Homo sapiens: one gene and its partners. The protein of the gene in region 3 purifies or fractionates together with the protein of the main gene of each other region. This does not show direct contact. Each region holds a gene or a part of one and is shown on either strand. Other genes may lie near its edges.

Region 1 (5,057 bases), on a different chromosome or scaffold from region 3:
TACAGGAGGGACTGGTAGGAGGATCAGAAGCTCAGGAGGTTGAGGCTACGGTGAGCCGTGATTACGCCACTGCACTCTAGTCTGTGGGACAGAGGAAGATACTGTCTCAAAAAGAAAAGGGTAGTAAGTCCATAAACATGTTTCTCTGGTAATTCAAAGAAATTCACAATAAAGCAGTCCCACCTCTGTGTACTTCCTAGGCAATCCATATGATTCTGTGGGACTTCCCACATTCTTTTTTAATTGCTTGATGGGTTACGTTAGATTGAGGTCTACAGCTGTGGTTGCCCATCATTTCTGACAGATGATTCGTTTTGTAAACAGCTGACATAAACTTATGGTATTGATAACTATAGTATAGAACTATATTTTCTCTTCCTTATGATTTCCTTGCTGTTTTTTTTGAGATGGGGTCTCATTCTGTCACCCAGAGGCTGGAATGCAGTGGCATGATAACGGCTCACTGCAGCCACAACCTCCTGGGCTCAAGTGATCCTCCTATCTCAGCCTCTCAAGTAGCTGGAACCACAGACATGTGCCACCATGCTCAGCTATTTTTTTTTTTCTTTTGGTAGAGACCGGTTTTCACTATGTTGCCTAGGCTGGTCTTGAACTCCCGGGCTCAAGCAGTCCACCTGCCTCGGCCTCTCAAAGTGCTAGGATTACAGGTGTGAGCTACCATACCAGGCCCACATTGTTGTATTACCTTGTCGTCTGGATACCTAAAGAATCCCTTCTCCAGATTTTCAAACTTAGGAGCAGACAATATGAAGAAAGTCTAATTAATGTGACATTCAGAGGCTAGCCAGGTGGAAATATAGGTCTGCAGAAAGGAGGAGTGAAGCAGACAAGCCTGAAAAGGCAAAAAAAGAGAGGGAGAGTCTGATTAAGTCGGACTGACAGGCTCTATACGGTCATAAACCAAGCTACATTATACCCCTGCCCTTCCTGCACCTTTCTTTGGAGTCCAGTAAATTATCTCTTTTGGCTTAAGCTAATTTCAAGTGGGTTTTCATCAACTACAACCAACAAAAATCCTAACTACAACAACTAGGTTACTAAGTGACTGCCATCACTGACAAGTACCTTTTACTTCCACATGCTAACTGCTTCAAAAATACATGTTCAATACTACCCTCTTTCCCAAAAGAAAACAGTATTACTTTCTATTATTTTTTTCTGTGTCCTTGGGGAAAGCTGTTAAGTAAAGATGAAAAGAAAAGGAACACCAGGCCAGGCGTGGTGGCTCACGCCTGTAATCCAGGCACTTTGGTTTGGGAGGCCAAGGTGGGCAGATCACGAGGGCAAGAGTTCGAGACCAGCCAGACCAACGTGGAGAAACCCCATCTACGCTAAAAATACAAAAATTAGCCAGGCATGATGGCACGCGCCTGTGGTCCCAGCTACAAGGAAGGCTGAGGCAGGAGAATCGCTTGAACCCCGGAGGCGGAGGTTGTGGTGAGCTGAGATTACGCCATTGCACTCCAGCCTGGGCAACAGAGTGATACTCTGTCTCAAAACGAAAAAGAAAAAAAGAAAAGGAACACCATATGAACACAGCACTGAAAAGGCAGCAGAGGAAAATCTAACATACACCTGACCTTATGGTAGGGTCTTCAGTTGAAAGAGAAACCTCACTCACTCCCCCTTTCCCAATCAATGTGCGTCTCCTACAAACAAGTAGCAAACAGTTATCTCAAATCAATAAGCACTGAATTGACTAAGTAATATAACGCAATTATACTGAAGATAAGCGCTCAAGTGTTGGAGAATTCCAGGAAAGACTTTTTTTTTTTTTTTGAGACAGAGTCTCGCTCTGTCGCCCAGGCTGGAGTGCAGTGGTGCGATCTTGGCTCACTGCAAGCTCTGCCTCCCGGGTTCAGGCCATTCTCCTGCCTCAGCCTCCCGAGTACCTGGGACTACAGGCGCCCGCCACTGCACCTGGCTAATTTTTTGTATTTTTAGTAGAGACGGGGTTTCACCGTGTTAGCTAGAATGGTCTCGATCTCCTGACCTCGTGATCTGCCCGCCTTGGCCTCCCAATTTTTTTTTTTTTTTTTGCGACAAGGTCTCGCTCAGTCGCTCAGGCTGCAGTGCAGTGGCGTGAGCTTGGCTTACCACTATCTTCACCTCCCAGGTTCAAGCGATTCTCCTGTCTCAGCTTCCCAAGTAGCTGGGATTATAGGCATGTGCCACCACACCTGGCTAATTTTTGTTTTGTTTTGTTTTTTGATACGGAGTTTCACTCTGTCACCCAGGCTGGAGTGCAAGGGCGTGACCTTGGCTCACTGCAACCTCCACCTCCTGGATTCAAGCGATTCTCCTGCCTCAGCCTCCCAAGTAGCTGGGATTACAGGCACCCACCACCACACCTGGCTAATTTTTGTTTTTAGTACAGACAGGGTTTCATCTTGTTGGCCAGGCTGGTCTCGGTGACCTACCCACCTCAGTCTCCCAAAGTGCTGGGATTACAGGCATGAGCCACTGTGCCCAGCCCAATCTTGCCTTCATATCCTACTATCACCACTTACCCTGCATTTCAAAGTCTTCATCTTTAAAATAGGGGGAATATCTCATATTTAGCTATTAAGAGGAAAAGATAAAAAATATACATAACGTGCCCGATGCCAATCCTACCACTTAGCAATAATTGCTGGATATCTCTTAGTACTCTCTACCTCCTTTTTCCAGAGTGCTTTCATTATGCCTAGCTCAGCTTGTGACAAAGAAATTTTCCTTGGAATTTTTCAGGGCAACAAAGAAGGGGTTCAAATTGCCTCTTTTTACCTTGAAGATTTTAAAGCCAATATAATTAAAATGGGATAGGTATAAGGACTCCAGGTATGCATAAGGCCATTCCTTGGACCATGATATCTGACTACTTTTCTTACAGAAGCTGGAAAGTAAGAGGCTTCATTAACTACCTCATGTGATGTGAGAACTGACCACTCTGGAGGGAAGCTGTTACTCAACAAACATTCTCAGCACTCTTAAGGGCTAAACACATAGAAAACGATTGTGGCCAGGCAGTCACATGGACCCTGCCCTTTGCAGCAGAGGTAAGCAAAACATGAGCAACAGCCACATATAAATTAAGATCTGACATCACTTTCCAAATCAGCAGCAAACAAACCAAAGAACTAGAAATTATCTCACAAGAGTTTTGACATTTGTTACCAGTAGTCACACTGACAAAATGTGTACGGAAAGAAATATCTAAATATACACTAATTTTATAAGTTATAATTTTTCCATATTTAAAACTGACAGGCTGGGCACAGTGGCACATGCCTGTAATCCCAACACTTTGGGAGGCTGAGACAGGAAGATTGCTTGAGGCCAGGAGTTCAAGACCAGCTTGGGCAACACAGCAAGACCCCATCTCCACAAAAAGTTTTTGAAAAAATTAGCTGGGCATGGTGGTGCAAACCTGTAGTCCCAGCTATTGTGGAGGGCTCAGGCAGGAGGATCCCTTGAGTGTGGGCAACAGAGTAAGACCCTGTCTCTTAAAGAAAAATTGACCAAAAAACCCTAATGAAACAAAGTTATTCAGAGTGCAAAGACTAGCTATTTTTTTCTTCAGTGGAAGTACAATTTTTCTTTTGACAAACTTCAATAACCAGATAATTAGAATCCATTACCTCTGTGGTACATATTAAAATGAATATTTCAAACTAGTCTCTTCCAGATCTTAAAAATTCACTGTGAGGAATTTCTAAGGCCCTTACTGCCAAACCTAACATAAAAGAATCAATACTGGAGCAGAGGTAATAAATGCTAACACAGAATCTACAGTTCAATATAGATGAGAACCATACTGAAATGAACATGATGAGTACAATATGGCAGCATTGCTAGAAAGAGGTCTTGATATCAAAATAACTCGTGATTCATAATGTATTTAAGTTACTGACCTAAGTAATTACCTAATTCTCTCAGCTTAGGCTTATTTATCTGTAAAACTGGAAAACACACCTTACTAAGTTCCGAGGATGCTCTGAGGACACATGATTACAAATCCATGTACTGTGATAAGTCCTTATACAATGAATTTGGACTACACTACGACGTCATTTGACAAAGCTTATTGCATTAGTAACTCTCTGAGTATAGAAAAAGAAAAAGCTTGTATAATACTAGTGGAATTTTCAAAGACATTCAAATTATAGCATTGAGAACTCTCATCTTGAGTCAACTAGATACTAAGTTAGGTGTTCACTGACATAAAAGAATGTCAGAATTTTCATAGCCGGGCAGGGTGGTGCATGCCTGTAATCCCAGCTACTCAGGAGGCTGAGGCAGAGAACTGCTTGAACCCGGGAGGTGGAGGCTGCAGTGAGCCCAGATCGCACCACTGCACTCTAGCCTGGGTGACAAAGCGAGACTCCGTCTCAAAAAAGAAAAAAAAAAAAAAAAAAAGTCTGAATTTTCAAAAACCTCATCTTATAAAACTGTGAGTGACAATTCTGAGTGCCAGAGGCCTGTAATTGGTACTCATTCAAGTAACCGTCAACGTCTGTTCTACTGTTACCTTCCAATAAACAACTATGCTGGAAATTAGATCTTTCAAGACTCAAATGGTTTAAGAATTCAAGGTGTCCGCCGGGCACGCTGGCTCACGCCTGTAATCCCAGCACTTTGGGAGGCCAGGCGGGGGGATCACGAGGTCAGGAGATCGAGACCATCCTGGCCAACATGGTGAAACCCCGTCTCTACTAAAAATACAAAAATTAGCTGGGCGTGGCGGCGCGTGCCTGAAATCCCAGCTACTCAGAAGGCTGAGGCAGAAGAATCGCTTAAACCAGGGAGTCGGAGGTTGCAGTGAGCTGAGATCGCGCCACTGCACTCTAGTCTGGTGACAGAGAGAGACTCCATCTCAAAAAAAAAAAAAAAAAAGAATTCAAGATGCCAAATTTCTGATACTTGCCTACATAAATTTTATGGCTGAAATACGGAGTTACGCTAGCCTGCTTAAAAAGACTCTGTCGAAACTCGCTCCGTTTTATGGAGGAGAATTTAAATGGTATTGCCACCATTTAACTAATTTTTCCTGAACT
Region 2 (4,700 bases), on a different chromosome or scaffold from region 3:
GAAAATTATAGTTTAATTAAATGCAACATTATAATTATGTATTGAACACCTATATTCTTAATTGCCACTTTTCCAGAAAGCAGATAATTACTCTTGGTTGCATTGGAAGATAGCATTTTACCAAACAGTCACAAATTTATAATTATTGAAAAGAAGACTTGTCCATAGCAATATAAGAAGTTCCTAATTACTCATAGGTAGAAAGAACAGGTATCTTAGGCAAATCCCCAAGGATGTCAATCTACAGGACAGACTTTTCAGAATTGTCAGGTCCCTGATGTTCTTTTGCTTCCTAGGCAGGGAGACTTGGTTGTGGGTTTCACCTTCTCTTCCTTCACCAGTGTTGTTTTGAGGTGTGTTGATGAGGAAGCAAAGATGGACTTCGGAGTCTCTCTTTGTGTTGGCTCTCCTAGGCAAAATCTCTTTGCCTCTCTATGGGAGGACTATCCTAGTTCAAAAAAAAATTTTGTGTTTATCTGCCTTTTTTCCTGAAATTTATTTTTCCTATTATTTCCCCCCAAATTTGTTTAGAGGTATATGGGCAGACATAGATTTGAAAGGGAAAGGGACAACAGGGGTTTGGGGAACAAACTGATATTCATGTGCTGTATGTAAAATCAAGGTCAGAAGGCAAAGGGAGAGGAGAGATAGGAAAGTAGCCATATAAGAAAAGCATAAGAGTAGGAAGGAAAGAAGTTCAGGAGAATTAATATAAAGGAAAGACAGAGGGTATTAGAACTGGAAATGGAATTAAGTGGAATGGAAAGAAATGAAAGAAAATGAGAGAATAGAATGTAGTTTGCTATGTAGTCTGTGAAGATCAATGATTACCCTTAGTGATTGATCTGATGGGTACAATTGCGTGTGCTTCCACCATCACGCTCTACCTGGTGTGGGTCAGCCAAACATTTTGAGTAAGAGACCAGAACAGAGCCTTCTTAAACATTCCTGGTTTATTCCTCAGTTTGCTCGCTTGGATTTAGTTCTTCATGAGCCCAGTAGCAATCTTTAAGCAAGGTGCTAAGCACCTGCTAAATCCCTGTAGGGACCTTCCGCAAGTAAGAAGATATTTTATTTTATCATTTTAGACATGATTTCTTTTTCTAGCTCAGTTATAAATTAAAATATGTGGGGTTTATTCAAAATACAAGTGTGGCTTTTTCTGTCCTTTACATTTCCTGTATGTCAGTCCTCTAAAGCTTTTGACCAAGAGAAGTAGATATGCTGTGACGTAGAGAAGGAATGTCATTCTACTTACTGGCATCACTATTTTCTTCAATGCTGGCTGTGTATACACTTTGCGAAAAGACTGGAGCGTTATCATTTATGTCCATAACTTTGACTCTAAGCTCAAGAGGCCTTTCTAAATCTTCACCCCGTGAATTCAGAGCCCGGCAATAGATCTGTGGAAAATTGGAAAAAAGCCATCTTTTTCCACCAAAGGAATTTTAGTAACATGCTTGAAAATATATCAGAAAATAGGCAAAGAAACAATTTTTTCCAGTGAATTCAGACTGTAGTACAGTCAAATAATTTAAATATGATCAGGACACTTGACTACATGTACATGCAACATACCAGAGAATCCTGAACTATAAACTTTTATTTTCACACTCTTTCCATTCCTTCAAGTCTTCTATTTGGGTTCAGTCTGCCATGTTTTATCAAAAGTAATCCATTATCTTAAGATAATATTTTTTGAAAAAGGGAAGAAAACTAATATGAACAAATCAAAACATATGGCTATGACTTACCAAGAAAAGTGGAGTTATTTCTCTGTCTACCACTGAAGTGATGTTAATTTCCCCAGTGCGAGGATTAATGGTGAATACCCCATATGGTGGTCGATCAATCCCTACTCCAGAAATCCGGTATGTTATCTTCTGGTTCGATTCGCAGTCTGATCGAATCTATAAGAAAAATAGCTAGGATTGTGATCCAGTTTAGAGCAGATAATGCTTAAGAGTGTAGTGGAATAAGAAGGGAGTGGGTTTCTTTACCAAATGGGCTTTGGATTGAAACCTGACACCATGACTTAGTCCTGTGTGACCCTGGAAAATTTACTTAACTTTGCCCAGATCAGCTTACAGTGGGGATAATATCACACAGATTTGTTGTGGGAATTACATGAGGTAATGTGTATAACATACACACTTGGTGCTAGGTTTGTTGTTAATAACACATTGTTCAATTCTCTGATTTTTTAGCATACGCAGAAATAGCTTCACAAAAGAAATTACAACATTTACTATTTTTTAAAAATAACTTGTGTCATATTAATAAGTATCCTACCTAAGCTGGAGTCTGAGATTTAGTCAAAATGGTAGATAAGTTGAGAATATCAGAAAACTATAATGGTTAGAGATATTTGTAATAATTTTATAAATGTAAACATACTGCATCACTTTTCTGCCAAATAGATTTTATGGCAAATATTCTGCCACACAGATTTTGCTTTAGTAGCTTTATTACCTATTGCTGATAAATTTAAACTGAAACAATTTTGAAATCTCACCTATATACTAACGATAAGAGCATTCAGTAAAATAGTAAGATTTTTTACCCACACATTCACAGTCAAATAAAGACTGCTGGAAATAGAACTTTGGTTAGCTTAACTCTAATCCAAAGGCCCTTTTTACATAGAAGAAAACTCAAGAACCTCCCAAAATGCAGAGAAAAAGAAAAGAATATGCAATATAAGTGGAATAACATAAAGCAATTACTGAGTTGAATGGAAATAATAATTTAAAAGCGTCCCTCCAATTTGAAAACATCTGAGAGAGAATACATCTGTTTTCTTGAGCTGAGGTTGTATCTGTAACACCACTGCTGATGCTTACTATGTTTTTAATATAAAGCTGGAAGGAGGGAATTCTGCAGATCACTTTACTGTTCAGGATCAAGATGTCCAGAAAGAGTGAATGAAGCTATTAATGTGGATCCCATCCTTCCTGGATCAATTTATTACACATTCTTTAACTCTCCTTCCTTTTCAGTAGGCATTATTTGTGAAAGTCTTATAAGACTCTCTTATTTTCTGGATGTAGAGATCTGGTGGGAACTTTTGATACTATCCTTACTTTCCTGGAGTTAATTCATCTAGTGCAGTAAACTTGGCTTGACTTTCTGGAGGGCCAGGCTTCAGACTGTCACTATGTGAATACGTTTCCTATGACATTGACAGGCAATAATGAGCAGTACACAAATGGATGAACAAAGCCCAGTTGTGCTGGAGATCCAGCCCTTTCTTCTAGAATCACTTGCCATTGACTGCCTGCCCCACGTCAGCCTCCCTGCACATGATATTCAAATCAGTGGCTCAGCAACTGGAGCAAATGACCACATTCTGTCTTCTTAAATAACTGTGGAGCAGTGAAGCCTGCAAATCTTGGAGATATTTGAAAGCTTCCCTGCTCTGCAAAAGCATTTGTCATCAGATTGCTTCATCACTTACTTTGGCAATGGGGTTCCTCTTCGAGTTGTCCTCTCCTTCTCGACAGGCTGCGGCAAACTTGATCCACTCCCGCTTTTGTCTTCTGACTGTTTGCCATTTTGTAGTGCCATTTTCAATGTCAAATTCCTTCACCTTAAGCAAAAATGGTTCAGGTGTCTTACAGTGTGAGAACAATTTTACTTAGAAAGGACATTTATTTAATATTGTAAGGTGCATTTAGAAGAAACAGTGATATTGAATTTGAAGAACAGAGAATGTTTTCACCAATTCACAACTCTGGATAGATAGATAGCTTGGTTACCCCTGGCTGCCACTTCTTTTGGAATCATCTTGGTTCCAATTATTTGATTCTAGTGAAACAAATTTAATTAGCTACTTGAGGAGCTCATGATGTGCCATACTGTATAAGTTGTGCAGTTTTCCTTTTCTCAATCTATCTTCACCATATAGGAGCCTTGCCTATCTCACCCTTCATTGAGCTTTCACCAGAATTTACAGACTGCAGAGTTTAAAGATTATCATTGTTCCATGTATGCACATCCCATATAACATAAAAGTTGTGCTGGTGAGTCGTGCTCACCTAAAAGAGAGAAGAGCATTTTTCTCTTCTGTTGATAAGGACACCACTGTGGCTAAGCACCCAAGTATATTTTTGCAGAATTAGAAACATATTATTAATATTGGAGGAATTGATGATTCCTCCAATAATCCCATGGACACCTATAAGGCTTTGCAATGCTGTCATTTGTATCTGTGCTTGCTATATGGTTTTTCTTTCGTAGCCTTAAGTTGCTGCTATTGATGTATACTTAAGAATTTCATACTATTAATGAGATTAGAAATGTCACTACATGTGCAAGCCTATTTGTATACATGCATAAACTATATATATGCACGTATTTATTTTTGTAAGTCCTAATGTACCCCCTGAAACACAGGTGATTATAAGTTTACTTAGGCTAAGCTTCATTTAATTACCACTTTGGGGGAAGGAGGTGTTCCACTGAATGAAGCATATATTACAACCAGAGTATTTACATTATTTCTCCATTTTGATACGACTTACTGAAATGTACCACCTATTCCCTATTTCACCAAAAAGATGAGAAAACTTTATTTTTTCCAATGATTTGAGGGGATCATAAGGAAAATTTAACTATTATAATAAAATAAAGCTCTGCCAGAGATAGAGGACAGCAGCTCTATTTCCTGAGTTCTACTCTAAATGGCACTAGATTATATG
Region 3 (5,731 bases):
TAAACCCATTATGTCATAGTTTAGTATGGTACATCATTTTTTTTCCTTTAGACTAATGACACATAGTCTACACAGACTACATAGACTACATAGACTAGTGGCACATCTTATAGTCTATGATGATCCTTTAGAACTGAGGAAGCACAGGCCAGGCTCTGTCCTGGATGCCACTGCAAATGCCACTGCATTTCATCCTGTGGGTACTCTACATGGTAATATTACAATGCCCATTTACAAAGGAGAAAGGTGAAGGCCAGGGAGGCTAAGCATTGTGTCCAAGGCCACTGAGCCAAGAAAAGACTGAGCTAGAGTTCAGGCAAGCACTGTGAAATGGCAAAGCCTGGCTGCTGCAGCCAGGAGGAATTTTCTTAGACGTGACTGCCAGGGAGCAGCTGTTCCCTGAGTCGGCAACATGGTCAGAGACCAGAGCTTTCTGGAACCCAGCTCTCCCTGGCTGCTATGACTCAGGATGCTCGTCTGGTGCTTTGTGGGGGAAGAGGGCCAGGCAGCCAGTGTCAGACACACTCACCGTACACCTTGAGCTGGAGGGTCTGGGTCCAGGGCTGGCCCCTTGTGTCCACCATCAACACGGAGAAGTTGCCGCTGTCTCCAGACTCCAGCGGCCCGAGCTCCAGGCTGAGGTTGCTGTGTAGCTGGGCTCGGCCCAGGAAGCGGGAATGGTACAGAGTCTCCAGGGAGCCTCGGAAAAACGTGGCCAGGAGCTCTTCTGAAGGCCAGAGAGATCGCCAGATAGCCTCACGGACTTGGAAGCCAGGGGGACGCGCTGCCACCAGCAGCACCGAGCCCCCGACTTTGCTCAGCACTTGGGCACCAGTAACTGTAATGGGAAGTAGGGCTGAAAGAACAGAGCCCCTGGTCACTCTGCCTGCCCCACACTCCTCATCCTTCTTTGCATGCATCTGAGCTGCTATAGGGTGAATTGGGGCCCCTCCACTGACATTCCCTCCACTCAAGTTGAGGTTGCACTGTGCTAGGTACCAGGGATAAAACATATGGAAGATAACCCCAGTCTCTGCATTCATGGAACTTACAGAGGAAGCCAGACATTCAAGAAATCAATAAAAATGAATTCTGTTAAATACCATGAAGGGAAAAATGAGATGCCCTGGGAGAACACAGGTAGGGTGACAGGGGATCTCACCCAGCCTTGATGGGCTCAGAAAACAAATTGTTAAGCTGAGCCTTGAAGAGGAATGGGAATCAGCCAGGCCAAGCCGAGGGCGGCCTGGAGCAGGATAGGGAAGTGTCACCGGCAGAGGGCACAGTACTGACAAAGGCCTGGAGGGGGAGAGTTGGTGCCCAGGGGAACTGAGAGTAGTTCTCTGTGTGAGGAGTAGGAAATTACACTGCAGAGTTGGTAGGAGTCAGATCATGCAGAGACCTGAAAGCAATACTGGAGTTTGGGCTTTATCTGTAGAGCAATGGGGCGTCTCAGGTAGGTTTTAAGCAGGAGCGTAACAGGATTAGATGCATGGTTAGAAAGATCACTCCAGCAGGGATGTGGAGAATGCACTGGAGGTGGGCAGGACTTAGGCTGTTCATGTTAGTCCAGTGGAGAAGTGACGGCAACTTGAATTGAGGAAGGGAGCAACCGGGATGGGAAGAAGTGGGAGGAATTGAGAAACACGAAGATGGTGTGTAATCAGTAGGATTTGGTAATAGATTAGCTCTGGGGAGTGAAGGAGAAAAAGGAGTCGAGGACGGCTCCCAGGTCCTTGGGATCCACTGGATGTTATTCTCTGTGATCCAGAACAGGAGGAGAAACAGACAGGGGGTGAGAAAGCAAGATGCTGTTTTGGGGGACTATATTTGAGTCAGACGTGTATGGGAGACGCTTCTCCTTGAAGTGCCCCCCTGACTCCTTTGCTGACTAATTTCTGCCCACTCTTGTAGCATCACTGCCTCCTCCGACCTCCCCTATCCCTCATAGGTAATGTAACCAAGAGAGGTTACATATTCTCTCTTGTGTTCTCACAGTGGCCTGGGGCCACCATGCTGACTACCCTTATCCCTCTATTCTTATTGCCTGTTTATGAGTCAGCATCTCCCACTAGACCGTGAGCTCTTTCTCCCCATCGTTTGCTTCCAGTGCCCACCACTGTTTAAGAACAGACTGTGGGAGAAGCCTAGTAAATGGTATTGAATAAATGACCTACCCTGCTGAGGACTGACCCTATGCCTGTCGCTGGCACAGGGTGTAGGGAAGAATAAGAGGTGATGAAGTTTTGGTCAATGAGACATGATCTGGATGGTTGCTCAGTCGGCCATGATAATTCCGGTCCCCCTCTGCCTCACTGTCCTCCAGGCCCAACAACCTCCTCTCACACTGGAGATGACTTCAGTGTTAATGCAGAGCAGGAATGTAACACACAAAGAGAATTGCACTGGATGTCAGCCAAGACCTAGCTGCTCCTACCTGCTCCTCCTGGTGCTGCCACAGATCAGCTGTGTGCCCTTCCACACATCACCCTGCCCCAGGCTTCAGTACCACTGAAAAATAAGGGGTCTGTACCAGGTCAGTCACACAGATCTTTGATCATTAAGGGCCATTTGAAAAATTATTTTTGGGCTGGGTGTGGTGGCTCATGCCTGTAATTCCAGCACTTTGGGAGGCTGAGGAGGGCGGATCACTTGAGGTCAGGAGTTTGAGACCAGCCTGGTCAACATGATGAAACCCTGTCTCTACTAAAAATACAAACATTAGCCGGGTTTAGTGGCAGTGACCTGTAATCCCAGCTACTCAGGAGGCTGAGACAGGAGAATCGCTTGAACCCAGGAGGCAGAGGTTACAGTGAGCTGAGATGCACCATTGCATTCCAGCCTGGGTGACAGAGCAAGACTCCGTCTCAAAGAAAAAAAAAAAAGGCAAATTATTTTTGTCTCACCAAACAGACCAAGGCCTTTTTTGAGGTTAAGGTGTGATTTCCTGCACATGTTTAGAAATATTGAAGAAATCTGCAGGCTTTGGAGCTCTCAGGGCCAGGAACTCAGGCAAGGAGATGAAACAAAGCAACCCAAAGTCCCTATGAGCCTCTGATGTAAACAATATCATCTTAATCTTTGCTGCACCCCATAAACCCTCATCCATGGCCCGGCAGTGTTGACCCATGTCATGTTGGCTGCTTGTTGACCAAGGAAGGGAACTCAGGCATCAGATGGATAGAGGGATCGCCCGGTGTGGAGGAGACCCCGTGTATCAGCCATCCCAACATCACACCACCGTCGGCCACCCCTAAGTCCACGTGGGCCACATTTAGCCTCTCTCATCCCTACTTAGTACTTGCCTCCCCTTATAAAGGCCTGTAGGGAGGGACCTCAGCTCCCCCACAGGCTGTTGAAAACACACTCTGCTGATTGTGGGGAACCCTGCTCTGCCCTGCCCTCTGCTACTCTCCTCAAACTCTGCAGAGTTTCTGCATGCTAACACTGCCGGGTCCTCACCATTCTCACAGCCGACTTTCTCTCCAAACCAGCAGTATCACCCACTGGCTCCGTTTTTACTGCTCTGGGCCACAAAACAGCTCATGTCTCACAGATAAGAATACCCCTCAAGCTGCCACCTCCTCCCTCCCAGGACCCTGCATCTCTTTGTATCTGCCTAGCTTAAAATGTTGCCCAAGAGCTTGTTCTAGTCTTTCCTACCCACCCTCAGCTTCTGGGTTCTCACCCAGGTCGAGGGATCCCTGCCCAGACGTCTGGCATAGGCAGCTGGGGAGGGGCCTTCAGCTCTCCGAGGACAGGCTATCTGCCTGCCCCACTTACCTTCCCAGAGAAGCAGACTCCACAGGGGCCTCATGACCATCTTTCTCTGGAGAGGCAGGCAAACTCCCTCGACAGCCAAAATCCAGAACCTCCCAGGCCGAGTGGATGCACGGGAGGAGCTGTGGTCCTTCTGGAAAGTCCCATGTTCAGAAGGAGGAATCTTGACTCAGAACAGGATGTCCCAAAAGTGAAAACATCCAGAATAAAGTGGAAGTTGTCCCTGGGCCTCTCTGGGCTTACAGGAGCAGATTCTTGTAAGTCAGCCTCTTTCACATGCACATGGTTGGCTAACACGTGGCGACAACAGCCCCCACACAAGCCACATCCTCCTTGCTGGATCTCGCTGGCCTTCCTGCATCTCAGCCTGCCTCACTACTATCTGTCATCCTCATTCTAGCTTAAAATGCTTCTGTGGCCTCCCGTGGACCTGAGGATGAGGACTAACTCTGCTCTGCATGCAGGCCCTCCTGAGTCAGGCCTTCTTCTCCAGGCTGGTCGCCCACAGTCATTCTGCCCTCCAGCCATCCCAAGCCAGAAGGCCTCCTTCTCAGAACTACTGATTTCACACTTCCCTGTGTTGTACTTTCCCCACCACCCCGACTAGGCATGCTGCTCCCTCTATCCTTGCAAACAGAACATGGCTGTGCAGTCGGCGAGGACATCCTTCCAGGCTTCCTGACCACAGGCAGGTGAGAGGCCCTCTCCTTGTGTCCTGTGCATGCCCACACCTCCCTCTTTACTCTTGCTGTGTTGTTGATGACAGTTTTCTGGTTTTCACAGACTGTTTAGCCAGTCTTTTGTTCCCTTCTGTGTTGCCCTCAGTGCTTGGCACATTACAGATGTTTCATGAGTATTTGTTAAGTGAGTGAGTACATTCTAGACATGGCTACACATCTGGCTTTATGTAAGCCTTGCAACTCTCCTCTGAGAGGATCATCTTGTTACCTGGTTAGAAATGGGAAAATGTGAAAACCAGAGTGAGGTTAGGCCCCTTGCAGAGCTCACAGAGAGGCAGAGCTGGAACTTGAACCTCAGCCTTTGAAGTGTGGTCTATTTTGCCACAGTTATCCCCTCCTCATCCTGTTTCTCTTCTCACTTCAAGTTTCTTGGTTTCTTGCCAGTGAAGGTTTTTAGAGGACGTGTTGCCCCTGAGGAAAATTCCTGCTAGTCTGGAGTGTGGCTCATCGTATCTGGTCCTGCACAGCCTCTCGCCTGTCAATCAAACTGGACACTGAGCTTTGGACTCAGCCAGGAACTAGGCATATAGGATGGGGTGGGGGTGGGTGGTGAGCAGGAGGATTTTGGGATAAGGTTTTTGCCCTCCAGGTACTCACAACCAAAATGTAGAGATAGGTACACCAAGGAAAGTGAAGGGTTATCTGCAGACAGACACCACTTTGTGCAAACAGGTAGTCAGTCCTCAGAAGTGGGTGGGAAAGAGGGCTTCGCGGATCTGGGCAGGGGACGCTTCTTGAGAAGGTGGAATTTGAGCTGTGCCTTGAAGATGGGCATGGTTTAGATAATATGAGGAAAGGAGAGAGCCAGAGGTTGGGGGTGGGCTCTGGGCAGGAGGGGAGAGCAGAGCGTGCAGGGATGTGGCTGTGGGAAAATACCAAGTAGGCTCCACAGAGGACAAGGGACAGCAGACAGGAATCCTTTAGGGCTGGGTGGGAAGAATGGAAAAGGAGGTTGGGGGCAGATTGTGGAGGCCTTGAAAACTGGGTTAAGTTCTTCTGGAGACTAGTGGCTCTCAACTGTGTTCAGCACTTGGATTCTCAGAGATGCCATCAGGGTGAGCTAGGGCCCAGGAATCTGTGGTTGTAACAAGCACCCCACTCAGCGTGAGTCTGTGGCTGGTGGACTGGGGGACCGCTCCGGAAGCACTGCTTGAAGAGAGGGGCTGTTGCATGTTTTAAGTAGGAGTGGGAGGACAGCAGGCAGGGCAGGT
Region 4 (5,057 bases), on a different chromosome or scaffold from region 3:
ACCTACAAATCACATTTCAAAAATGAATCATAAAAACAAACTATTTCTATAAAACACAAAGAGAAAAGTCACTAGAGTTCCAAGTAGCTGGGAAAGACAGATTGATAAGGGTGGTCCTTTGTACTTTCAGAAAGACAAAAAAGTAAATAAATGTGTTCTGTACTCTTGAACTAAACTTTACCTTATCAGATACAGAAAAAAAATTAACCGGGTTGAAGGTATCTTATGAAAAGTATCTTGCTATCAGGAATTCTTGTGCTACGAGACCAGTTCTATTTAAATCCAGAGTAATTACAATGGATATCTTGGAATTGCAAGATTCCAGGCACTTTTCCCTAAGAATTGCATACTTAGATAGTAAGAGAGGCCTAGCACACATACTGGTGAAGGACAATGTATTCACTGACAAGTTTCCAGAGCTTAGAGGAGTGCTTATATTACTAGACCGTTATTGACTGCTCACTGAACAAATGACAGAAAGAAACAAATCTTATCAATTAAAGTCTAGCAGCTAACATGACTAAGGTACTAAGATAGGGAGGATCCACTCAAGACTGCAGGTATCCTCCCTATTTACGTGAAATCTATCCATTTCAAAAACATTTAATGAACCAATATTTAAATGGGGACCCGTAAAGTTTCAATCTCTAATTTTTCAAAGAGATAAAAGGAGTAAGCTGGCCCTTGGAAAGCAGGTGCAGGCCAAATCCAAACTATTTGAGAAAGCTTATATATATTAACCAAATGCCCACTTAAAAATCTTTAAAAACAAGGATTCCAATGAGCTATTTTTTCTCCAATGGTTAAAGTAGAAGCAATATATACGATTAATTACATAGTTATAACCATATTTACTCACCCTCCTAATAGTATCTGTGGCTGGTTGGATTCATTTGTGATACCAAAAATATCAGGAATTAGATCACCATTGAAACTGAAAAAAAATTAAAACAATAAGCAGCTATTTCTTTAAATTCTTACTTCTAATTTAGCTTTAAAAGAAGCAGTAACTTTTGGGAAGTGTGGTAGACATTACAATGCTCGCCAGTATCTAGTGATAAGTATTAAGTCAAATGTCAGCACAAGTGACATGTGTCACTTTTAGGCCAAAGTGTATAATTTCTGTTACCAGCCCCTCCAGCCCTCTCCAGGCTTGCCATGGCAATGAGAAGGCATTGTGATTCAGATGGACTAGCTACAAAGACAGTGGGCTCTCTGATGGCCTGACTCTAAGCAACAGCACAGAGCAGAGCCTGTTGTTGACCCACACTGGACATATAGTAAGAGCAAGAAATAAATTCGTTTTGTGAGATTTTGGGTATCTCTGTAATCTTTGCATTATCTAGACTACCCTTGAATGATAAGGATACAGCACTAATTCCTAGAAACTTACTTCAGAATCCTAAGCCAACTTGTTTACTTAGATGGGCTTAGGAGAAATAACCTAGAAAAATAATCCTAGTTGGTATAAAACTTCATACTGGCCATTGAATATTTTAACAACAATGAAAAAATACACAACTATGAAAGAAATCTAGCGGGGCACCGTTAAGAAGATTAATCCATGGATTTACAGTTCAGACTTCTAATGGCCACTGACACACTGCTGTATGGGTATGATTTTAATAACTGTAAGAAAGACAGTACTGGAAACAAGAATGTGGCCAAACTTTGCTCTAGTCCCGGGAATGATCTCGACCTCTACCAAAATACGCTGTCAGAAATTTGCAAATCCAAATTTACATCAATTATTTAAATCAATTATGCTGGTACATGAGTCTACAGTGAGAATATAAATGATAACACAAAGCAGGAGTTATATTATAAAAAGAACAAAAATTTCTCCTTAATATAGGAATCTTTCTAAATTTCTAGAGGAAACTGTATCCTAAATATCAAATATAACAGTTTTACTCAAAAACAGGTATCTTAATTCTTTCAGTAATGACAGCATAGATCCATAATGGACACATTTGAAGCGACTGAAATAAAAACACAAATCTCTTCTACTTTCCAAAATAATAAATTTCATTTTTCTTTGTCCTATCTGATGGCAAATAAATACAATATAATCAAAGGTACAGGCCTCTGAGTGAATTTAGTATTTTTATTACTAAGCAAAGTAGTTTCCTATGTGAAGATTTTATTTTATGTTTAAGTTTAAAATCGTTTCAAAGGAAGCAAGCCCATACTTACTCCATAATTAGTGGCTCATCTTGAAAAGTCCTATTGAGTATGGTCATATTGTTAGGATCTGCAAAAAAGATATATATATATATGAATTAGCAGGCATTTTATATTACTTTTGATATCTATGCTTAGGAAAAAATATTCTTCTACTCTTTTCTAGATTTATCTCTGATTTATTCCAACTATTATCATTAATGAGATACTATAAATCTAGTTCAAATGAACATCAAGCTTGCAAAGACAAAATATTGGGAGAATACATTCTACAGTGAAGACTAGCATTACAATAACCTCCTTTTGAGGTATGCATCTAAATATTTGCTAGCTGAGTCTTTGTCTTTACACAATTTAGTGCTAGAGAGGTTGACAATTAACAAGGTTTTGGTGTAAAGAAGGCCACATATGCAAAACTTCCTGGTTCTAAAATGTACATGCTTATATACAAGCTTTGTGCATGGTACTCCCTCTGTAAATATTTATTGACTTAATGAATATAATGTATCGCGATTACTGTTTACATTCCCAAATGGTGCAGAAAACATGACTGAAATTTGGCTCCATGAACAAAGTTGCCTATTTAGGTATAACTAATTGGCTTTTCAGATAAGGCTTGATGATTTGTGACTAGGTATGGTAGACTGACTCTCGAACCATACTTCAACTTTTTTGTGCTTTCCTGTGCTAAGGAGACTAGAAACCAAAAATAGCATTTTCCAGATATTGTGGCATCTGAGATGCTGAATAAAAGTTAAGCCTTGCCAATCAGATACACTGTGAGTCTTAAAGGCATGAATGAGGTAAAGGCTGTTTCTCTGCTATTTCTATCTGTGTCTGCTCACTGAATTTGGGAGTATCAAGAGACCAGGTGCAGCATTCATTTTGCTAGTGAGAATCACTGCAGGCACAGCATCATTCTGGCAGCAGTTGTGTAACTAGCCACTTCTGATAGGGGAAAGAGGCAGTAGCTTTTTTGATGATATTGGGATTGCTCCTGAAAGCTCAACCTAGAGTTTATTCTTTAGCCATCTCAATGATTCTGTGAGCCACTAAAATCCTTTAATAAATCTCTGTCCTCTTTAAGCTAGTAAGAATGAAGTTTGTCAGTAGAAGTGATCCCTGCCCAGTTCAGGGTTGAAAAAGAAAAATCAGGAAATAAACTTTGAAAAAAGGTTTTACAATTATTGACACCCAAGAACAGTATTTTTGAACTGATTTCAGAACAATATTTTGTTACATTTACCTTCATATTCAATGATAAATATTAAAAATTTTTAAAACAAATTCACCTAATGTTTGATTTTGTCCCCAGAAGATAACAGCTCCTAATTCACTCTTGGCATAATTTTTGGGAAGATATGTCAGAAGGACATCCATTTGAGAATCTCCATCATAATCCCCAGGGACTACACTTGTTATCAATGCACTGTGATTCCTAAAAGAAACAAGCATTTACAAATATCAGACAAGTTGTAATGGAAAAGGACAATTCTGTATTTCTACCACACAAAAATATTTTCAATGAAAAACTTAAAACTTAACAGAACTGACTGATTGCCTTCTCTTTCCTATCTTTTCATCCATCATGTATTTAGACCTCTTTGGTCTAAAAAAGAGTTCAGAATGAATGCAGAATAGTCTCAAGAAACAAGACAAATCTGAAATATGTCGAGAGAAAACGTGTTTATTATGTTCAAGCAATGGCTAGTATAGCCCTTCTATATAGTTCCTTTGTCAAGGACACCAAGACATTCGGATGGTGTTTCTAACAAATGGAGGCTCATAATTGCCAAAGCAGTAAGCATTATCACTGGGATGTTTTCAATTAAAAGATATTATTTATAAAATATTTAGTTTGGATTTTAACATAAATTCAAAATTTACAGTAAAAATTAAAAGAATCATTTTATTTCTGAAAGCTAGTAAATTAAGAATGGAATTTTTTTTAACGAAACTTGGCAATCAATATAGCATCCAAACATATATATCTAACTTTATATGTATATTTTTATTTTTTCCTTTTCATAGGTATTGATATATTTTTATTAACAAAATAATTCTAAAATTATTTATATGAATCTTGAAAGCTTAACGTCCTGCAGTCTTATTATCTGAGCGACCCAAGCAAAAATTAGGCCTTTAATTCATTTTATACTTAATTCTACTCAGATGAAATAGCAAGACAGCAAATTTCCAATTAGACTATAGATAATTACTTTCTTAATGCATCAGTGGTAGTTCTTTCTCCCTCTCACTCAGCAAGGTAAGAACCAAGTGGTGTATTTCTGGAAAGTCTCAGGAATTAAGGATTTAAATTACAGTAATGGGTAAGGTTTTGGCCTTAAGCTAGACACAGGAGTTAACCAAAAGTCTACAAAAGGAACAATTTAACCCTTGCCCACAGCTCTACCCTATTTCTAGAATGTTAGTCTGTCAAGAACATACATGCAGGGCAAAAGATAGTAGACTAGTCCCACTAGGCAATACATTTCCAATTATTTCTTTTGCACCTTACTTGAAAATGTGAGTAGACACCTGCCTTCTGAAGAAAACTTTGACTATTAAAGAGAGCTAAAACAAATAGCAATAAGGAACCTGAAGAAAACAGAACTAATGCAACAAAAGAAAACTTCAAAATTACACTTAAGAGAAAAAAGTCTGTCTATAAAAAAAAAAACAAACCAACAACAGTATGCTAAAAGACAACATCAGTAAGAAAACAAAAGAAAAACCTCGGAAATTAAAAATGTGACACCTGGCTGGGCGCGGTGGTTCACGCCTGTAATCCCAGCACTTTGGGAGGTGGAGGTGGAGGTGGGTGGATCACTTGAGGTCAGGAATTTGAGACCAGCCTGGCCAACATTGCAAAA
Region 5 (3,918 bases), on a different chromosome or scaffold from region 3:
TCTTCTTGAGCCTCTCCTCACACTGGGAGCAGCACCCATTGCTCTGAAGGTGACTGTCCCTGTTCCACCTTATCAATTCCTTGTCCAGCCCAGTGGTGCCTGTGGAACCCCAGCAGCAGCTCAGACCCCCCTTCCTCTGAGTCCACTCTGCTCCAGGCAGGGCCATCAGTGGGCTCAGGATCTGGGGTGTGCAGGAGGATGATGGCAGGGGAGCTGCCTCAGGGCCCAGACTCGAGCTGCACATGTCCATGGGACTGACTTTTTAAAAATCCTTCTCTTGAGCAGCCTCTACTCTTCACCTTCCACCTTAATTCCTGGAACCCAAGCCACTTTCTGTGGGAAGGCAGCCCTGCACTCCCTCCTTTTCAATTAGGTGTACCAAGGTTCTCCCAGCCCCCTCCTCCTGGGATTACACCCAGATCTCTCTTAGCCTCAGAGATGGAATCCCCCTTCCCCTGTCACACCTCATGTAAAGCTACCATGATGCACCTAACCCAATTAAGAGGACTGCCCATGTCTGAATTCCTGCTGCCTGCAGGCCACACACCCTTCCTGAATAGGAACCTGCTCTGAATCAGGCCTGAACTTGCTAAACCTTCTCAAGCTCAACAGACCCTGAGCCTTGGTATGGGCCCCTCCCTTTCCCTCTGGACTCTGAAGGTGAGAATCCATCAGAACTCAGGGCTGAGCTGCCCAGGTCATTGCCAACATTGCCAACAGGCAACACAAGGTCTCATTCACCTGTCTCATGTTAGGATGAGAAGGTCCCAGCCACGGGGAGGGGCGGGACTCCGGGAATTCTCTTTCCCCATCCTGCCTCCTCACCCACCTGCTCCTTGCTCCACTTCCAATTCTGCCCACAGTACCTGTCACTCTAAAGGACTCTCCTCAGATGCCAGGGAGGATGAAGCAGGGGAGGATGATGAGGAGGCAGCAAAGGATGAGGGTGGTGGCTGTGGCCCTGAGTTGGGTTGTGCCTGAGGACATGGCGAGTGGTGCTGAAATGGAAACACAAAAGTGACAACCCTTGTCCAGGCCCCAAATCTGAGGAGACACCTCCTCAGTTCCTGCCACCCTAGGTCATCCTGGAAGGCAAAAGTTTTGTCCTCTCCCCCCTGGTGTGGGGCAGCCAGTATGACAGGTCCTGGCTTAGGAAGGGAGACGGGGTGAGTCTTGTCCTCAGGGAGCTCACACAGCTGCTGAGGGAAGCAAGGTGACAACACACCCCACCCTCCTGCTGTGGGGGAAGAGGAGGTGATGCCCCAGAGTTGGGGAGGGGAGGATCTCTGGGCTGGCGTTGGAAGTGGTTTTGATGGATTTCCAGAACCAGACCAGGGAAAGGAAAGGAAAAGTGATTCTCAAAAGAGGAAACACTAAGGAAAAAGGTCTGAAAACAGTGACACCTGCAGTTTCAAGGCTGGTGAGAAATCCACAGGGCGGGGAGCAGGAGCAAGTGCAGTGAGGAATAGGAGTCAGGAGGGAGAAGGAAGAGGACGGTGGGAGAGCACAGGCATGCCAGTAACCCCAGGAGGAGCGCCCCACGAGGAGGTCATTTTAACGTGAATGTGTATACTGGGATGATTGAAGCTGAACTCAAGAACTAACTTCTTGAGGTCACCATTTCTGATCACATTTGAGATCCCCGTTTCTTTTTCTCCTGTTACCTCCTGCACTTGGCTCCAGGGTGCTGTCCATGCCCATCAAGAAGTCCTCAAGCCATCCTATACAGTCTCCCATTGAGAAGTAATGGAAGGACATGGCCACAACCTTGTCATTCTCCCACTTTTCTTTCATCTTTCTGGCTCCAGGATGAACCGTTGTCCACATTCTCTTCTCTGAGTCAAAGAGGAGGAAGATCTGCCCATCGAAACTGAACTGCCAAGATCCACTGCTGTGTCCTTCAGCTTTCTGCTCACAAGACATCCTTGCCTGCAGGGTGAGGGGTTCTGCCCCCATCAGAGAGAGATCAGCTCTGATCTTGACAAATTTTGCACCCCCATCCTGTTCCCCTTACAATTTGCTGGCCTTACTCTCTCTGCTACATCTTGGCCTTGCCTCTAGACTCTTGAGGGGTATGATGACCTTCCCATTTGTATTTTTTTTTTTTTTTTGAGAAAGGGTCTCGCTCTGTCACCCAGGCTGGATGGAGTGCAGTGGCGCGATCTCGGCTCACTCAGCCTCCTAAGTAGCTGGGACTACAGGCGCCCGCCACCATACCCGGCTAATTTTTTGTATTTTTAGTACAGACAGGGTTTCACTGTGTTAACCAGGATGGTCTCGATCTCTTAACCTCGTGATCCGCCTGCCTCAGCCTCCCAAAATGCTGGGATTACAGGCTTGAGCCACTGCACCTGGCTTTTTTTTTTTTTTTTTTTTTGAGACAAAGTCTCACTCTGTTGCCCAGGCTGGAGTGCAGTGGCACCACCTCGGCTCACTGCAGCGTCTGCCTGCCGGGTTCAAGGGATCCTCCTGCCTCAGCCTCCCAAGTTGCTGGGATTACAGGCATGCGCCACCATGCCTGGCTAATTTTTGCATTTTTGGTAGAGACAGTGTTTCACCATGTTGGTCAGGCTGGTCTCGAATTCCTGACCTTGTGATCGGCCCACCTCTACCTCACAAAGTGCTGGGACTACAGGCGTGAGCCACCGTGCCCAGGACCCTTTTGTATTTTTACATGAAAACTATAAATGCCTCTAACCTACCACTGTATCTGTTCCCTGCTGTCCTGGGCCATCTGAAACTTACCCTTGGGTGTGTAATTCTCCAGCTGAATGTCACGCAGTTGCTCTGTAAGTATGTCCACCACCTCTCTCAGTACTGGGTTCTGTGCTTTCCAGGCCGTTGTGACATTTAGTTTCTTCCCCAGGGGACTGACAGGTGTGACTGTCTTGTTGCCACAGTCATAGTGAAGAAAAGTCTTTTCATCCACCTGGCCTTGAACCGCACACCACCGTGGTCCAGGTCTGAACTTAGGGATGACGGTGATGTCATAGCAAAGAGAGTGAGGGTCTGTGGAGAAAGGCAGGTGAGGGGTGGGTGGGGAGGAAAAGACCCCTAGTTAGCCCCCCTCCACGCTGTGTCAATAAGAGGATGCCTCTGGCAGGCTGGGCTGGCCCAGGAAGGAGTGCCCCCTCCAGAACTGTGGTGTCTACAAGTTTAAGGCGAGTGCTCGCCCCTTGCATGAGGACAAGGAGGAGGAGGAGGAGGAAGTCTCTGTCTGCTGAGAAACCACATGTCCCCAGACATGTCCCACTGCCCCTCTGCCCACATCAGTCAACACGTGACCTTGCTAGAAAGGTGCCAGGCCTCTCTAGCAAGAGAGGAGGAAGGGCCTGGATGGCAGAGGATCTTCAGCAGTAGCCCACGTGGACTGCGGGAGGTGGGAGAGGGTGTGGGTCCACCCCTGTGGATGCTGGTGCTGGTTGAACAGAGTGAGGATGGAACCCCGTTGGATAAAGAAGAGTTAATTATCATGGCCACAGGATTTAACATGTTGGCAAAGCCCCTGGTGATGGCATGCATCTGCTATGAGGAGGCCTTCCTGAAACCTTGGACAAAGAGATGGTCCACACAGCAAGAAATGGAAAATCTGAAAGTCTAAGGCAGGTAGTGGAGGGAGAGATCACAGGCTCAGAGAAGTGCCCATGCCAGAGGGGTCTAAGTGTGAAAATCCAGAACAATGTCCATCCACTGTGCTTATGGGAAACCTGGAGGACTCCTGTTTACCCAGCATATAAAGAAGGCCCCATGAGAAGGCACCAGAATGGAATGAAGCTTAGGGATGCCTATTGCTGAAGGCCAGGGTTGGGGGTAGGAGATGCTGTTCCTGAAATCTGCTCCCAGAGTAATGGGATGAACAATTCTGAAATTCCAAATTCCAGGTGGAGGCTGTCAACTGTCAGGAGCAAGGAGGGTGCA

Evidence for each region.
Region 1: the proteins of SLAMF8 (region 3) and NRBF2 purify together in Homo sapiens (co-immunoprecipitation; one large-scale study listed by IntAct). This does not show direct contact.
Region 2: the proteins of SLAMF8 (region 3) and DSG4 purify together in Homo sapiens (co-immunoprecipitation; one large-scale study listed by IntAct). This does not show direct contact.
Region 4: the proteins of SLAMF8 (region 3) and ITFG1 purify together in Homo sapiens (affinity purification with mass spectrometry; one large-scale study listed by BioGRID and IntAct). This does not show direct contact.
Region 5: the proteins of SLAMF8 (region 3) and ULBP2 purify together in Homo sapiens (affinity purification with mass spectrometry; one large-scale study listed by BioGRID and IntAct). This does not show direct contact.

Annotation. Positions count from the first base shown.
Region 1 is NC_000010.11:63,135,487-63,140,543, reverse strand, and holds part of NRBF2 (nuclear receptor-binding factor 2), read right to left. Parts: intron 1-5,057. UniProt on the Homo sapiens protein: May modulate transcriptional activation by target nuclear receptors. Can act as transcriptional activator (in vitro). Involved in starvation-induced autophagy probably by its association with PI3K complex I (PI3KC3-C1).
Region 2 is NC_000018.10:31,385,577-31,390,276, reverse strand, and holds part of DSG4 (desmoglein-4 isoform 2 preproprotein), read right to left. Parts: intron 3,590-4,700; coding exon 3,458-3,589; intron 1,911-3,457; coding exon 1,755-1,910; intron 1,404-1,754; coding exon 1,259-1,403; intron 1-1,258.
Region 3 is NC_000001.11:159,824,991-159,830,721, reverse strand, and holds the start of SLAMF8 (SLAM family member 8 isoform 1 precursor), read right to left. Parts: upstream 3,850-5,731; 5' UTR 3,824-3,849; coding exon 3,784-3,823; intron 857-3,783; coding exon 530-856; intron 1-529. UniProt on the Homo sapiens protein: May play a role in B-lineage commitment and/or modulation of signaling through the B-cell receptor.
Region 4 is NC_000016.10:47,450,537-47,455,593, forward strand, and holds part of ITFG1 (T-cell immunomodulatory protein isoform 1 precursor), read right to left. Parts: intron 3,623-5,057; coding exon 3,477-3,622; intron 2,255-3,476; coding exon 2,197-2,254; intron 935-2,196; coding exon 860-934; intron 1-859. UniProt on the Homo sapiens protein: Modulator of T-cell function. Has a protective effect in graft versus host disease model.
Region 5 is NC_000006.12:149,944,400-149,948,317, reverse strand, and holds part of ULBP2 (UL16-binding protein 2 preproprotein), read right to left. Parts: intron 3,010-3,918; coding exon 2,746-3,009; intron 1,947-2,745; coding exon 1,665-1,946; intron 999-1,664; coding exon 889-998; 3' UTR 867-888; exon of another isoform or gene 862-866; intron 1-861. UniProt on the Homo sapiens protein: Binds and activates the KLRK1/NKG2D receptor, mediating natural killer cell cytotoxicity.